Homo sapiens: one gene and its partners. The protein of the gene in region 2 purifies or fractionates together with the protein of the main gene of each other region. This does not show direct contact. Each region holds a gene or a part of one and is shown on either strand. Other genes may lie near its edges.

What was found. The genes of interacting proteins can lie anywhere in the genome.
Region 1: the proteins of SLCO4A1 (region 2) and ALDH18A1 purify together in Homo sapiens (affinity purification with mass spectrometry; one large-scale study listed by BioGRID and IntAct). This does not show direct contact.
Region 3: the proteins of SLCO4A1 (region 2) and DNAJC10 purify together in Homo sapiens (affinity purification with mass spectrometry; one large-scale study listed by BioGRID and IntAct). This does not show direct contact.
Region 4: the proteins of SLCO4A1 (region 2) and SMCHD1 fractionate together in Homo sapiens (co-fractionation; one large-scale study listed by BioGRID). This does not show direct contact.

Annotation. Positions count from the first base shown.
Region 1 is NC_000010.11:95,608,577-95,611,711, reverse strand, and holds part of ALDH18A1 (delta-1-pyrroline-5-carboxylate synthase), read left to right. Parts: intron 1-269; coding exon 270-456; intron 457-1,419; coding exon 1,420-1,515; intron 1,516-3,135. UniProt on the Homo sapiens protein: Bifunctional enzyme that converts glutamate to glutamate 5-semialdehyde, an intermediate in the biosynthesis of proline, ornithine and arginine.
Region 2 is NC_000020.11:62,645,503-62,649,002, reverse strand, and holds part of SLCO4A1 (solute carrier organic anion transporter family member 4A1), read right to left. Parts: intron 43-3,500; exon of another isoform or gene 1-42. UniProt on the Homo sapiens protein: Organic anion antiporter with apparent broad substrate specificity.
Region 3 is NC_000002.12:182,757,757-182,761,256, forward strand, and holds part of DNAJC10 (dnaJ homolog subfamily C member 10 isoform 1 precursor), read left to right. Parts: coding exon 1-69; intron 70-1,080; coding exon 1,081-1,134; intron 1,135-1,403; coding exon 1,404-1,551; intron 1,552-3,500. UniProt on the Homo sapiens protein: Endoplasmic reticulum disulfide reductase involved both in the correct folding of proteins and degradation of misfolded proteins.
Region 4 is NC_000018.10:2,693,726-2,697,225, reverse strand, and holds part of SMCHD1 (structural maintenance of chromosomes flexible hinge domain-containing protein 1), read right to left. Parts: intron 2,700-3,500; coding exon 2,533-2,699; intron 195-2,532; coding exon 104-194; intron 1-103. UniProt on the Homo sapiens protein: Non-canonical member of the structural maintenance of chromosomes (SMC) protein family that plays a key role in epigenetic silencing by regulating chromatin architecture.

The DNA.
Region 1 (3,135 bases), on a different chromosome or scaffold from region 2:
GCGTGAGCCACCATGCCCGGCCCACCTTGCACATCCTTAACGTTCAAGGCTTCCTGCTTCAATCCCTGTTCCAACTGTCTTGAGGGCCCATTGCTGGCAAGTGGCCAGTCAGATCATGCTGGAGGGAGGAAAGTAGGACTAGTTCAGTTGTTGAGGCTACAGGAGCCACTTTGGGCTGTGGTTTTACAGGCTCACCTTTCTGTTCTATCCTAGAACTTGCTTATTTCAGTTGTTTTTATGTTGTTGCCCCTGGACTTCCTCTGTTCCAGGTAAAAATTCATGCAGGCCCCAAATTTGCCTCCTATCTGACCTTCAGCCCCTCCGAAGTGAAGTCACTCCGAACTGAGTATGGGGACCTGGAATTATGCATTGAAGTAGTGGACAACGTTCAGGATGCCATTGACCACATCCACAAGTATGGCAGCTCCCACACGGATGTCATCGTCACAGAGGACGGTCAGTGTCCAGATGCTTCCCGCATACAGTGTCTGCCTTTGCTGCTTTCTGATCCTGCTCCTCTTAGCCCCCCTTGGGCTGCAGAAAAACATCATTTGAGTAGGCTTATGGTAATGTTTAGTAGTGGTTGCATTTGGTACTTTGATGAGTGCTTTCACATCACTTTATTATATTGTCACAGCTGGAGGAGGAGGGGCAGGGATGATTAGCTCTGCTTCGAAGATGACTAACCCTGTCAGAGGCACTATCATTTAATGCGTGCAGCAAATCTTACAAGGTAGTTAAAATAAACCCATTTTACAGCTGAGGAAACCAAGGCAGAACCAACTCTGCACATTCATTCATTCATTCATTTATTCCACAAATATGTATGCAGGGACACTCCTGGGTGTCAGATACTGGAGCCTCAATGGTGGAGGATGCCAGTAGGGCCCCAATGAGGAATTTACAGTCAGCTAATTAGGGCACCAGAGCAGTACCACCCGTATTAACAGCCAACATTTACCAAGCACTCACTGTGTGCTAGGCACTAGCATGAGTACTCCCCAGGTGTTTCATCCTCTCTACAACCCTATCAGCTAGGTCATGTTGTAAGTCCCTTTTGACCCAGACACAGAGAGTTTTGTACACCTGCAGAAGGTCACAAAGCTAGCAGGTGTACAGCTGGAGTTCAGGCCTAGGAAGTCTGGCTCTGGAGCCCATAAGTAGGAAGTTTAGGCAGGTCACCTGCATGGGAGATCTGGATTCCAACTCAGTCTTTCCACAACACCGTGATTGATGAAGCTAACTTGTCTTCTTCCTGTTGAGATTTTTCATAAGCCTGAGTATTTAATACGTGAGAACACATGGAGAGGCCCCAGTGGGGACCCAGACCCTGCCCTGATCTGTCACCAGTCAATGGCTGGAAACAGGGATGTTCTCTGGGTATCATCCTAACTTGGTTTCTCCTTCTTCACCCTGCAGAAAACACAGCGGAGTTCTTCCTGCAGCACGTAGACAGTGCCTGTGTGTTCTGGAATGCCAGCACTCGCTTTTCTGATGGTTACCGCTTTGGACTGGGTAAGAAAGACTCTGGTTGGGAAGAAAGAAGTTCCTTGTGAAGCACTGTGTGGTCTAGGGGTATGTTGAGGTGGGAAAGACACCTCCCCTTGACTGTCACATGCTTGGTCAAGATAAGAGAGAAACAGGCTGGGTGCCGTGGCTCACGCCTGTAATCCCAGCACTTTGGGAGGCCGAGGTGGGTGGATCACCTGAGGTCAGGAGTTCGAGACCAGCGTGGCCAACATGGTGAAACCCTGTCTCTACTAAAAATGCAAAAAATTAGCCAGGTGTGGTGGTGCATGCCTGTAATCCCAGCTACTCAGGAGGCTGAGGCAGGAGAATTGCTTGAACCCGGGAGGCAGAGGTTGCGGTGAGCCCGAGATTACGCTACAGCACTCCAGCCTGGAGGACAGAGTGAGACACCATCTCAAAAAAAAAAAAAAAATAGAGACAGACTTCTGGCAAGGTAGGATTATCAGGGAGAATAATTAATGAAACCTCCCATGAGTTGGTGGAAGGCCTATCTTCTAAGCATTTCACATGCTAAGAAGGCAGGTACTTGTATTCATTTTTCAAAGAGGGAGAATGAGATTCAGAGAAGTATAGTAACTTGCCCAAAGTCCCACAGCTGGCATTCAGACCCAAACTTGAGCAAGTCCAAAGCCTGGGTTCTCCCGCTACAGCGTGGGCAACCACAGCCTGCCTTTTTACACAGGCTGCGCCAGAGGTACATGCTGTGTCCCTTGAGAGCACTCCTTTTACAGACTTATTTCGTCAAAATGGCACAGCCAGGTTGCCTCGGAGATAGGAAACCCCACAATGGTAGGACAAAAGAAGGTGCCGTGGGCCTAAGTACCAGCATCAAAACAAACAGGCCAGCCAGAAGTACAAGGTTACCTTCTACAGCAGACCTTGAAATAAAAAGCTTCAGAAGGGCACTTCTGTCCCTTTCCATTAGGTATAAAATTTCCAGCCCTCTGTCGTGTTGGGGTTATTTGGACAGTCTCTCGTTTTCAGGGGTACCAGTATATAAAACTCCAGAACGGGCGCAGTGGCTCACGCCTATAATTCCAGCACTTTGGGAGGCCAAGGCGGGCAGATCACCTGAGGCCGGGAGTTGGAGATCAGCGTGACCAACATAGAGAAACCCCATCTCTACTAAAAATACAAAATTAGCTGAGCATGGTGGCACTTGCCTGTAATCCCAGCTACTCGGGAGGCTGAGGCAGGAGAATCGCTTGAACCTGGGAGGCAGAGGTTGCAGTGAGCCGAGACCGCACCATTGCGCTCTAGCCTGGGCAACAAGAGCTAAACTCCATCTCAAAAAACAAAACAGACAAAAAACCTCCAATAATACATTTATGACACGTTTTCTGAATATTTGAGAATTATTTCAACCACTCAAAACATTTTAGGCCACGGGCAGTGGCTCACACCTGTAATCCCGGCACTTTGAGAGGCTGAAGCAGGAGGATCTCATGAGTCGGGGAGTTCGAGACCAGCCTGGGCAACGCAGCGAGACCTCCTCTCTACAGAGATGAAAAAATTATCCAGGTGTGGTGGCGTGAGCCTGTAGTCCCAGTTACTCAGGAGGCTGAGGCAAGAGGATCCCTTGAGCCCAGGAGTTCGAGGCTGCAG
Region 2 (3,500 bases):
TTCTCTGGATAACTCAGACTAATACAAGCCAGTCCTTCCATACTTTGGTACCGACTTCCTAACGCCTGCTATGTGGGAAACCTGGGCTTCAGGGACTCCCAGGACACTGTCGCACCCACGAGGAGCCCAGGGGCGGTCACTCGAGAGCTGGGTGCAAAAGCTGCCCATGGCTGCGAATCAGAACCGCCTGGCCGGTGGGGACAAGAGGCCCGGAGCCTGGAGTGAATTCCAGTCATCAGCCAAGGCCCTGGGAGCCAGGCTTAGGGAGGAGGCTCTGACAGCACACCACCACCATCGCTGCCCAGGAACCTTCTGGAGGCCTGAACCAGCTGAGCTCTCCTGTGCACACACAGTTACTGAAATCTGCCCCATCACGGGAGGAGGGTCCATCACCTCCATGGAGTAGGGTCCTCTCCCATGGCCTTGTACTCCTGACGGCTGCTCCAGAATGAGGGACAAGGTCTCCCCTGGGGCTCCGGCCACACGGCTCCCATGCAGCCGGCAGGTGGGAAGGAGCCCCTGGAAGCAGAGCCTGCCCATGTGCCCAGGCCCGGAGCCCTGACTGGTGGCCCCGCCCGTGAGCCACTTCAGGCCCCCTGTGGCTGCCCCGCCCCAGGGCACCCACTCACCTCTCGGCCCATCCTTTCCCCACTGCCCTGATGCCTCTGTCCATGGGAGAACATCTGAGGCGGAGCCTTAGGTGGCTCTCAGCCCGAGAGAAACGCAAACCACCCCGCCCCTCCGGTGCATCTAGAGAGCCAGCTGCCCTTTCCCTGGGAGCTTAGCCCCCTCAGGCCCTGTCCCTGCTCTAACCCACAACAACCCCGCAGGGGAGGAAGGGGGGATGTTGCTGCCAGAGGCCTTGGCAGCCAGGGTGTGAATTAGGCCAAGGCGATCAGCCGGGGGATAATGTGTCCCTGGAGCCTCCGGCTGGGGGCAGGCCTGGGGAGGGTGTATGCGTGCGTGTGCGCCTGTGTATGGGTCAGTGCCCGCTATTTTAGGAGGAGGCCATGGGGGCCAGAGTTCTCTTCCGATTTCCTCATGCTGGCCTGGTCAGTCAGCTGCATCTCCGGGATAGGAGGCCCTGACTCCTCTGCTAGGGTCTTTTAGAGGCGAATCCGGCTGACCTCTTCCTCCCCCTCCTCTCAAGCCAGGACAGTGACCTGGGAGGAGCTAGTGGCCACGTGCGGGTGGCTGGCACAGCCCAGACTGTGGGAACTGGGGTGCCAGCCTGTATCCCCGTGTGTGGGCAGCTGACACAGCCCGGCCTGTGCCACTTCTAGAAGCCCACCTACTTCCCTAGGCCCCATGCACTTACTTCCCAGCCTGGCTCCCTGCAAAGCGCTCTCAGCGCAGTGCGTGGAAAGGACGCAGGATCTCTGAGAAAACTATTTTAAGCTTGCCAGCCCCTGGGCCTGGCCTGGCTGACCTACTGTGGCCCAGCAAATGTCCCCAGGGAGGCCTGGAGCTGGGCTGGGTGGGTAGCACCCCTCCACATTAGGGGATGTCCCAGTCCCGGCTTCCAGGCCCCACTCAGAATTTGGAGGCCAGGCAGGACCATAGGGTCTCAGTTCTCCTTTCTCTTCAGATTCCAGCCCAGGCACTGCCTGGCAAAGCCGAGTCCCTCCTCCTGGCACCTGACGGCTCTGAGGCTGCCAGCCACAGCCACATGCCTGCCCTGCACCCAGCCCCGCCCTGAGCACCTGCCTGCTCCCCACACCATCTTCAGCTGCCTCCCCTGCCACACCAGCCCCCCAAGACACCTGGGACTCTCTCCTCTATCTCCAAATTCACTCCAGGGTCTCTTCCTCAAGCTGGATGAATGAATGAAAGGAGCTTTCACTTCTTTAGCTTGAGGCACAGACTCTGGGATCAGCATATGGGGGCCTCAGCTGTGCCTGGTACACCCCAATTTGCATACCTGGTGACCTCGCACAGGCGAGCAGGCAGGAAGCCATTGCTTTGTATGGGGCCGACAATGAAGGATTGTCTGAGCAAGAGGGAGCCAGGGTGCGGCAGCAGGGCCAGCCCAGAAGGACCTGTCCCTCAACCTGCTTGCACCCAGTCTCCACCCACTGAACCTGGGAGCGTGGGGAGGACGGGTGAAGCCACGGGTGTGTGCAGGTTTACTCTTCCTTCCGACTCATCATCCCATCCATGGAACTGAAAACTCTCCTGCCATTCAAGGGCATGTTTGAGAAGAAGACGGAGGCTGGCTCCAAGCCACGCAGGTCACGGGCCTCTCTCTGCCTCAGTTTCCACCCATAACAGAGACATCATGAGAATGAGAATGAGCCACTGAGCGTCCTACTCAAAGTGGGCCCAGTCAGCACTGGAGTTCATGGGAAACAGACTCAGAATGGAAATCCACCCTGTCCGGCCCCGGAGCCCTGCAGGCCCTGCCTGCCGCAGGTCCCCACTGCTGCCCTGGCCTCCTCAGCCTCCTTCCATGGCTGGGGTGGAAGTGGCTTGCCCTGCCCATGCTCAGGACCCCCGCTGTGCCTCGGCTACTGGTGAGTGAAGGCGTAAGTGATGCCACAACTCATGTTTTCCTGCATGTGGGGGGACCCCTTTACAGACCCGTGGTGTTCACAGCTCTCTTTGTCCTCTGGGGAAGAGGAAAGGACCTCCCCAGTTCTCAGGCTAGTCCTTGGGCACAGGGCCTGCTTCCCAGCCTGCTGTGCAGAGCAGCCAGGGCTCTGGGACTCCTGAGGGTGAAGGTGAGGAGGCAGGGGATGCCCAGGACCTCCCTCCTCCAGGAGAGCCCTGTGCACCACAGGAGGCAGGGCGGGTGGTGGGAGGGAAGGGCGGGCAGCTCAGAGGTCCGCCAGCAAAGGGGCTCAAACCTGACCCCCAATGTGTGGGAGAGACAAGACCCAGAAGGGCCCTCGGGGAGCTTGAGAGGCTGCAGGGAGCAGGTTCTGTCCAGATGAGGAACCTGCCTGGCACAGCTGGGCCACTCTCCTCCCAGGTGGCCTCCTAGGCCCATGGGTCCAAATCTCAGGTCCACAGCGCCTCCCGAAAGGCAGAGTCCAGTGGCAAATGCAAGGGCCCCAAGTGAGCCTGGGGCAGACTGGACGACACACGCCACCCAAAGCATCGCAAGCTCTCCCTGCGGCTTGGGCCAGAGGGGCAATGCCTCAGGTGCCCCCCAAGGCTTGCCAGATTAGAAAAACCACCAAGAAAAGGCAAGGTCCGTGGGCAGGAAGGGCCTGGCTGCGCGTGGGAGGGAGAGGAATCTGGGCTCTCTGGCACCCAAAAGCGACCCCAGCCACTGGTGCCAAGTCTCACCCTACGCTTGGGCTACGTGGGGAGCGGCTTCTGCAGAAGGCACGTGGTTTGAAAAAGCAGTCACCTTCCGCCAGAAATGTAGTCCCAGGGTCTAATTCTGTGTGATGCTGGTGGGAAGGAGGCTACTGAAAAGAACTGAAGGGTTGGAGACAGCCGGAGACCCCAGTGTCTGAGGACTGAGGGTGAGGCTGCGGGTGAGGATGAGGGTG
Region 3 (3,500 bases), on a different chromosome or scaffold from region 2:
GGAAAACGTTCAAAGATACCCTGAGATAAGATTTTTTCCCCCAAAATCAAATAAAGCTTATCATTATCAGTAAGTATTCTCTCATATTTGAAGACATTTATTATAATTATTTAATTATACACTTAACAGTTAAGTTACCTGAACAAAATAAAAGTTAACCCAACAAATATTTATTGGGAGCCCACTACGTAAAGATAGTTTGTTAATGAACATTTCAGAAGATGAAAAGGGAGTATTGAACAGTCTCACTGTGCATAAAGCTTATAGTCTAGACAAAAAGATAAGGAAAGGAAGAGCTAACATTTATTAAGTCCTTAAACACCTTATTTGGTTTCAGGTACTATATTAGATACTTTACTCACCTTATTTCCAATAATCCTCACATATGCTCTGTGAACTAGGAATTACTACCCTTCCTACTATTACAGAGAAGTAAACTGTGATTCTCAGACCTTAGAATCCAAGGTCTAGGAGTTATCTAAGGCTTAGATAACTTCCCCAAGTCACACAGCTGCTAAGTTGAAGTTGAGGTTTGAACCCAAGTCTGTCTCAGCACCCATGCTGTTTCCACAACACCACGTGGTATTTCAGGTAGAAAACTCAAATGTAAGGTACATATGATGAATGTTATTAAACAAGTAAAAATGAACCATGGATTTCAAGAGAGGAAAGGGTCACAACTATGAGGAAATTATGAAAGGCTGCATTTTGTAGGTAGTTTTTGACATGTGTCTTTAAAAATGGGTAGGAATTTGACAGACAGTAATAACTTGAATAAAGATTCAGAAACTAAAACCCTTGGACATTCTGAGTTTCGCAATTCCCATAGGTCTACAGGAGATGTCCAGTAGACAGCTAGACATTCTGGGCTGTCTGGGGCACAAAGATACCAAGACTAGAGAAAAATACATTTGTGAGGCCTTATAACCAGAATTTGTAGCTAGGTATATTTGAGAAGAGAGATACCAGATGAAATCAATCAATATAACTTATTTTTTAAATTGCTACAATAAGATTGTTTTCTGAATACATCCAATAATAGAGAATCCTATTTACAACTAACATTTTTTCTTCTCTCAGCAGTTACAATGGTTGGAATAGGGATGCTTATTCCCTGAGAATCTGGGGTCTAGGGTGAGTAATTAAAATATATATCATTGTATAAAATAGATTCAAAGCCATTTACCCCCCTTTTATATCAATAGTTAAATTTACTGTGGGTTAAGGTTCTAGCATTTTAAATTACTTAGTAAAGTATTATATTAACCAAGATAGTACTGTACTTTATTACATTGCCCTTCCTTGACATCATTTTTAACTTAGAAAGTATTACAATATTATTGCATTTCATATGTTTGCTTTGGTTTTATATAATGAAAAATGATTTTGATCATTTGCCACAGATTTTTACCTCAAGTATCCACAGATCTAACACCTCAGACTTTCAGTGAAAAAGTTCTACAAGGGAAAAATCATTGGGTGATTGATTTCTATGCTCCTTGGTGTGGACCTTGCCAGAATTTTGCTCCAGAATTTGAGCTCTTGGCTAGGGTAAGTCATACCTGTCTTAAATAAGTTGTAGCCACATTCATGTTTTAGTAATTAGATAAAACATTGTAAGTATGTAATTTTTAGGTTTTTTTCTTAAATGTTTCCTCTGAATTTAAAAATAGCTATTATATTTCTATGACTGTAATGGTTGTAGTAGATTTCCTCTTTCTTTGTTAAAGCTTTTAGCTAACATCTTCTCTATCTTGGTAGACATCATCATCTACTAGCCATAAAAGCCAGAAACGTCTCTTTCTTCTCCCTCTTGTCTACTTTCTCCTCCCCACCCCAGTACTCTGTTGCCCTCCAGGCAGTTACTAGATTGTGTCAGTTTTATCCCCTAAATGTCTTTCAAATGTCATTTCTTATTCATCTCTACTGCTAACCTGTTTCTTCAACCCTTTATCATCTCTTGTCTAGACTTAACCATATTTGCCTTTTAAGTGCAGTCTTCCCTTGATATACTCAGGGGATTGGTTCCAGGAACCCCCATTCCATACCAAAATCTGTGCAGCTCAGGCCTCACAGTGGGCCCTCTGTATGCAGGGTTTCACATCCTATGACTATTCTGTTTTCCATCTGCAATTGCTTAAAAAAAAAAATTCCCAGTTCAAGCAGTTCAACACAGTTCAAGCCTTTGTTGTTCAAGAGTCATCTATGGTATTATACTGTCTACCTTTGTCAGTGCTGCCCTGGTGATCTTCTAAAATATTTCCCTCTCTGACTTACTAAGTTTCTTAATATGCATACATTGACTTCAGGTGTCTGATATGAGCTCTATCTCTATTGTCCACCTCACACCTTAGATTCCAGTGTAACAGAGTACTCCAGGTTCTCTGAACATGTGTCCTTATTTACATGCCGCTCCCTCTCTCTAAAATGCTCTGTCCTTACCTTGGTCATCTGTATTTTTTCTCCTCTTACTGCAAAACTCAGCTCCGATGGCACTGCTCTATTCTCTGCCCTTCTCAGTTAATCAGTGTCACCTGGATATGTTATCAAGTGTACTGATACAGTGCATATTAATTCTTTATTTATTATTACTTGAAAGATATTTAATTTGACCAGAAATAAAAGGAGCTGGATACCAATGGAAATAATTAGTTGTAGCAATTTTGGGTTTTGTTCGGTTGGTTGGTTTTATTTTTCGGTATAGCATTGTCCATCTTCCTTTGTAAATGGCTGTCTCTTCCTGAGGGCAAAGTCCATGTTTTATTTATTTTTATATCCTCAGGGCCTAACTCAGTAAATGCTTATATAAAATTAAACTGAATACATACCCTCAATGCAGTCTGAGCTTTTGGTGTTTCTTTCTGTCGTAACAGTCTTATTAGTGACCTAATCCAGATTGATAGCTTTCTTGCCTCCATAACTCGAGGAACTCTTGCCACTAGTGTTGGTATAAAACACTCAACTGGAATGAGAAAGTCAGCTCCAGTTCCACCAGTTCACACTAAAGCTTAGCATCCCAGGCCATGGGAATTTTTTAGCAGAGGGATTTTAAAGGTCTTACTAGCTATAAAAGATTATTTTTGTTATTAGCTGGTGCATCAGATAAGAGGTTTATTCTTTCCATTCTAATCTTCTTATGCTTCCTTCTGTAATAATTCTGCTTTACTCCATTTCTCATGTACTAAAAACTTTAGTTATAAACTTTGTAATGCAACTCTATATTGTATCTAGTAGAAAATTATTAAACATGAAAAAGACCATTTATTCAACAAATTTTAAGTACCAAATGAAAAGCCATTATGCTAAGTAGTAGGGCCACGTAACTCCACATGAAAGAAAAGGAAGATGAAAAGAAAGAAATTCCATGTCTTTAAGGAGATTTTAATCTAGTGGAAAGAGAAAATGGAAATAAATATAAGTAATACAAGATAATTGCTACAGTAAAATTAGAATGAAGCTGGAACAGGGGTAGAAGGGTGTCAGTGATGCCAGAGAAGGAT
Region 4 (3,500 bases), on a different chromosome or scaffold from region 2:
AGAAGTTGTCTAATTATCAAGTGTTTTTTATTATCCTGAGTCATTTGGAACTGGAACAAATATCTCATAATTTTTATTATTTTAAGATGGATTTTTCTCTTACTTCAATATCAATATTGTTGAAAGGTTCAACTTCTTTTGATGTTCGTATTTCATTTCCTTTTGGGCCATGAATATAGTAGTGATAAATATGCCTAAAATAGAGAAGAATAATTTTATACTTTTAATTCACATAAAATTATAGTTAATGTAATCTTCTATCAAAATATTTTAACACTATTTACTAGGTATCAAGCACTTTATTAAGCATTTTAAAATACATATTCCATTTAATGGTAAAAACAATTGAGATGCAGGTATTACTGCATCTCATTTTACAGATATAGAACCTGGGGTGCAAGAAGTGTATGTAAGTTATCTGACATCACAGAATAGAGTTAGGGAGCCGTGGGCTTCAACCCAGACCTTTCCAACTTCAAAGACCACATACACCACTTCCAAGAGGAATAATTCATCAAATAAATATAAACTAGACAGCAAGAGTCTATAATTCTACTTACCAGGTACGTTCCAGAAAGGACTCAATTATCGGTGGTAAACTGGATTAGGTATCTAATCTCAATAAGAGAATACCATTCCAGAACAGCAGTCCCCAACCTTTTTGGCACCAAAACCAGTTTCATGGAAGACAATTTTTCCAGAGATGGGAGTTGAAGGGGGGTGATTTGGGATGAAAATGTTCCACCTCAGATCGACAAGCACTAGAGTCTCATAAGGAGCACGCAATATCTCACATGCACAGTTCACATTAGGGTTCGTGCTCCTATGAGAAATCTAGTGCTGCCAGTGATCTGACAGGAGGCGGAGCCAGGTGGTAATGCTCACTCGGGCCCACCACTCACTGTGGGGCCGGGTTCCTAAAAGGCCACAGATGGGTACCAGTTCACGACCGGGGCGTTGGGGACCCCTGTTCTAGAACATTCATCTCTCCTCTCCTATAGCACTGAGACAATCTTACCCTAAGATTCCAAAAACAAAACTAGTAAGTTTGACACCATCTCACTGAAAACCAACATTTTGGAAATAACACCTCTTTATTTTTTCAGAAAAGGTTAAAAAAGATTATATTTTGGTAACATTGTTCAGGATTATAAAATACCACGTCTTTATTCGTGAAATAGAAATTTGCAATATTTCTTCATAATCCTTCATTAGAGCAAGAGTATATTTAAATTATGTGTTAATGTACACTGAGTTCCTTCAATAAACTATAAAATAGCTAATAAAATATGTACTTGAAGAAAACTGCAAAGTCCTACTTAAATACCTTGGGTAACAGGGATAATAAACAACTTCAACAAGAAAAAAGGTATTCCTAAAACCAAATTTATTTTCCCATAAAAAAATTTTAAAATTCTCTTAGCGTATAATTACGTATAAAATTGAGACTCTCAAGAACAATAGCCTTTTGGGTAAATGTAAAAAGATACATTTTTAAAATATGAATTTTGAGCAGATGTACCCATTTTGCAAGTCTCAGTAATTCATACTAATGCAAATTAGGGAAACAATACAGTAAATCGTATGTATCACATAGCTATAAAAAAAAAATTTTAGGCCGGGCGCGATGGCTCACGCCTGTAATCCCAGTACTTTGGGAGGCTGAGGTGGGTGGATCACCTGAGGTCAGGAGTTCAAGACCAGCCTGGCCAACACGGCAAAAACCTGTCTCTACTAAAAATACAAAAATTAGTTGAGTGTGGTGGCACGCGCCTGTAATCCCAGCTACTCGGGAGGCTGAGGCAGGAGAATCACTTGAACCCAGGAGGTGGTGGTTGCAGTGAGCCAAGAGTGCGCCATTGCACTCCAGCCTGGGCAACAAGAGTGAAACTCCGTCTCAAAAAAAAAAAAAAAAATTTTTTTTTAGAGCCATTAAATAACTATTCCTCTGATTTGGTCTAATGGAATATAGAGTCCCTACAAGTGTTACTGGAATAAAAACACAATGATTATTTTCAGTACTAATGTCATATAGGCACATATGTACGTATATTTTTTATTTTAATAGGCTTGATGCATTCATTCACTTGATAAACATTTGAGCATCTACCATGTAGCAAGTATTCTTCTAGAAGACATTGGAGATACAGCAGTGAATTTAACAACAAAAATAAATATATATGGTATGGAAGATTACGACAGGTCCTATGGAAAAGAAGCACAAAACGGGGTCATGGAAGTGATATAGTGCTCAATCTGACAAACTGTGAAGTTCTTTTTTAATTTTATAATATTGTCAAAATCCTGTGCCTCAAATAATGCTCAGTACACTAGAGGTGATCTATAAATATTTACAGAATAAATGAATAGAGAGCTGTTTTAACACCAATATCAGAGTACTGGATAATACTAAAGGGAAGAAAATGAGACAGGAGCAAAACGGATACCAAAGAGGCTTCAATATATCTGTAATGTTTTCTGCCTTAAAAAAGTTAAGTAGCAACATTTCCTAAGCCAAATATAATTACTTACGCTAACTGTCGTGTCCAAAGGTGGAAATAATTTTTCAAGTACTGTATGTGTTCTGGTTGTACCCCTGTGATAACCACAGCAGTAAAGCTATCTTTTTCCTTCTCCTCTATGATAAGATGATGTAGAAATCTTTCATCATCATTTGTAATGTGAACAGAATCAGAGGGCTACAAGAGTGAACAGAAATACAACAGATTAAATCATCTAAATTATAATTATACAAATAGCTATTGCATCAAATTTTAATGTGATTTACTTGGAGTTTCACAAATAGGTTTCAGAAAAGCTTTGGAGGAAACTGGCCCAATACAACAAACTGGCTGAGTATGTGACAACACTGTGAAGACAAGGGAACTTTCACACAGACTGCTAAACTAGCATGCATAAAGAGCACCCTATCTTATAATGCTAAACCGATTTTAGAATCATAAACGAAAAGGTAAAGACAAATACTGAGTTTTAAAATGCCTTAAAAAATTGAGGACACTTACCCCTAGGGTAGAATGAACGCTTGCTTGGGAGACCTACCACTTAACTTGGTCAGGACCAATGCCCAGCCCTCCATGTTCAAGAAAACTACAGGGCAGGCTGGACCCAGCTAGCTAAGCCCAAACACATAGTGCTTAAAAGTAAAATCATCCTGGACACCAACCCACTTTCAGAGAATATCTAAAACTTATGGAAGGGAGTTAGTAGGGGAATTTGAGGATAAAATTACAAACTTCTCCATCTGTAGTATGAATCTATGTTTTAAAAAATTGCAGGCCGGGCGTGGTAGCTCACTCCCGTAATCCCAGCACTTTGGGAGGTTGAGGCGGGCAGATCACCTGAGGTCAGGAGTTTAAGATCAGCCTGGCCAACAAGCCGAAACCCCATCTCTACTTAAAATACAAAAGTAGCCAGGCGTGGTGGTACACGCCTATAAACCCAGCTACTAGGGAGGCTGAGGCAGGAGAATCGCTTGAGCC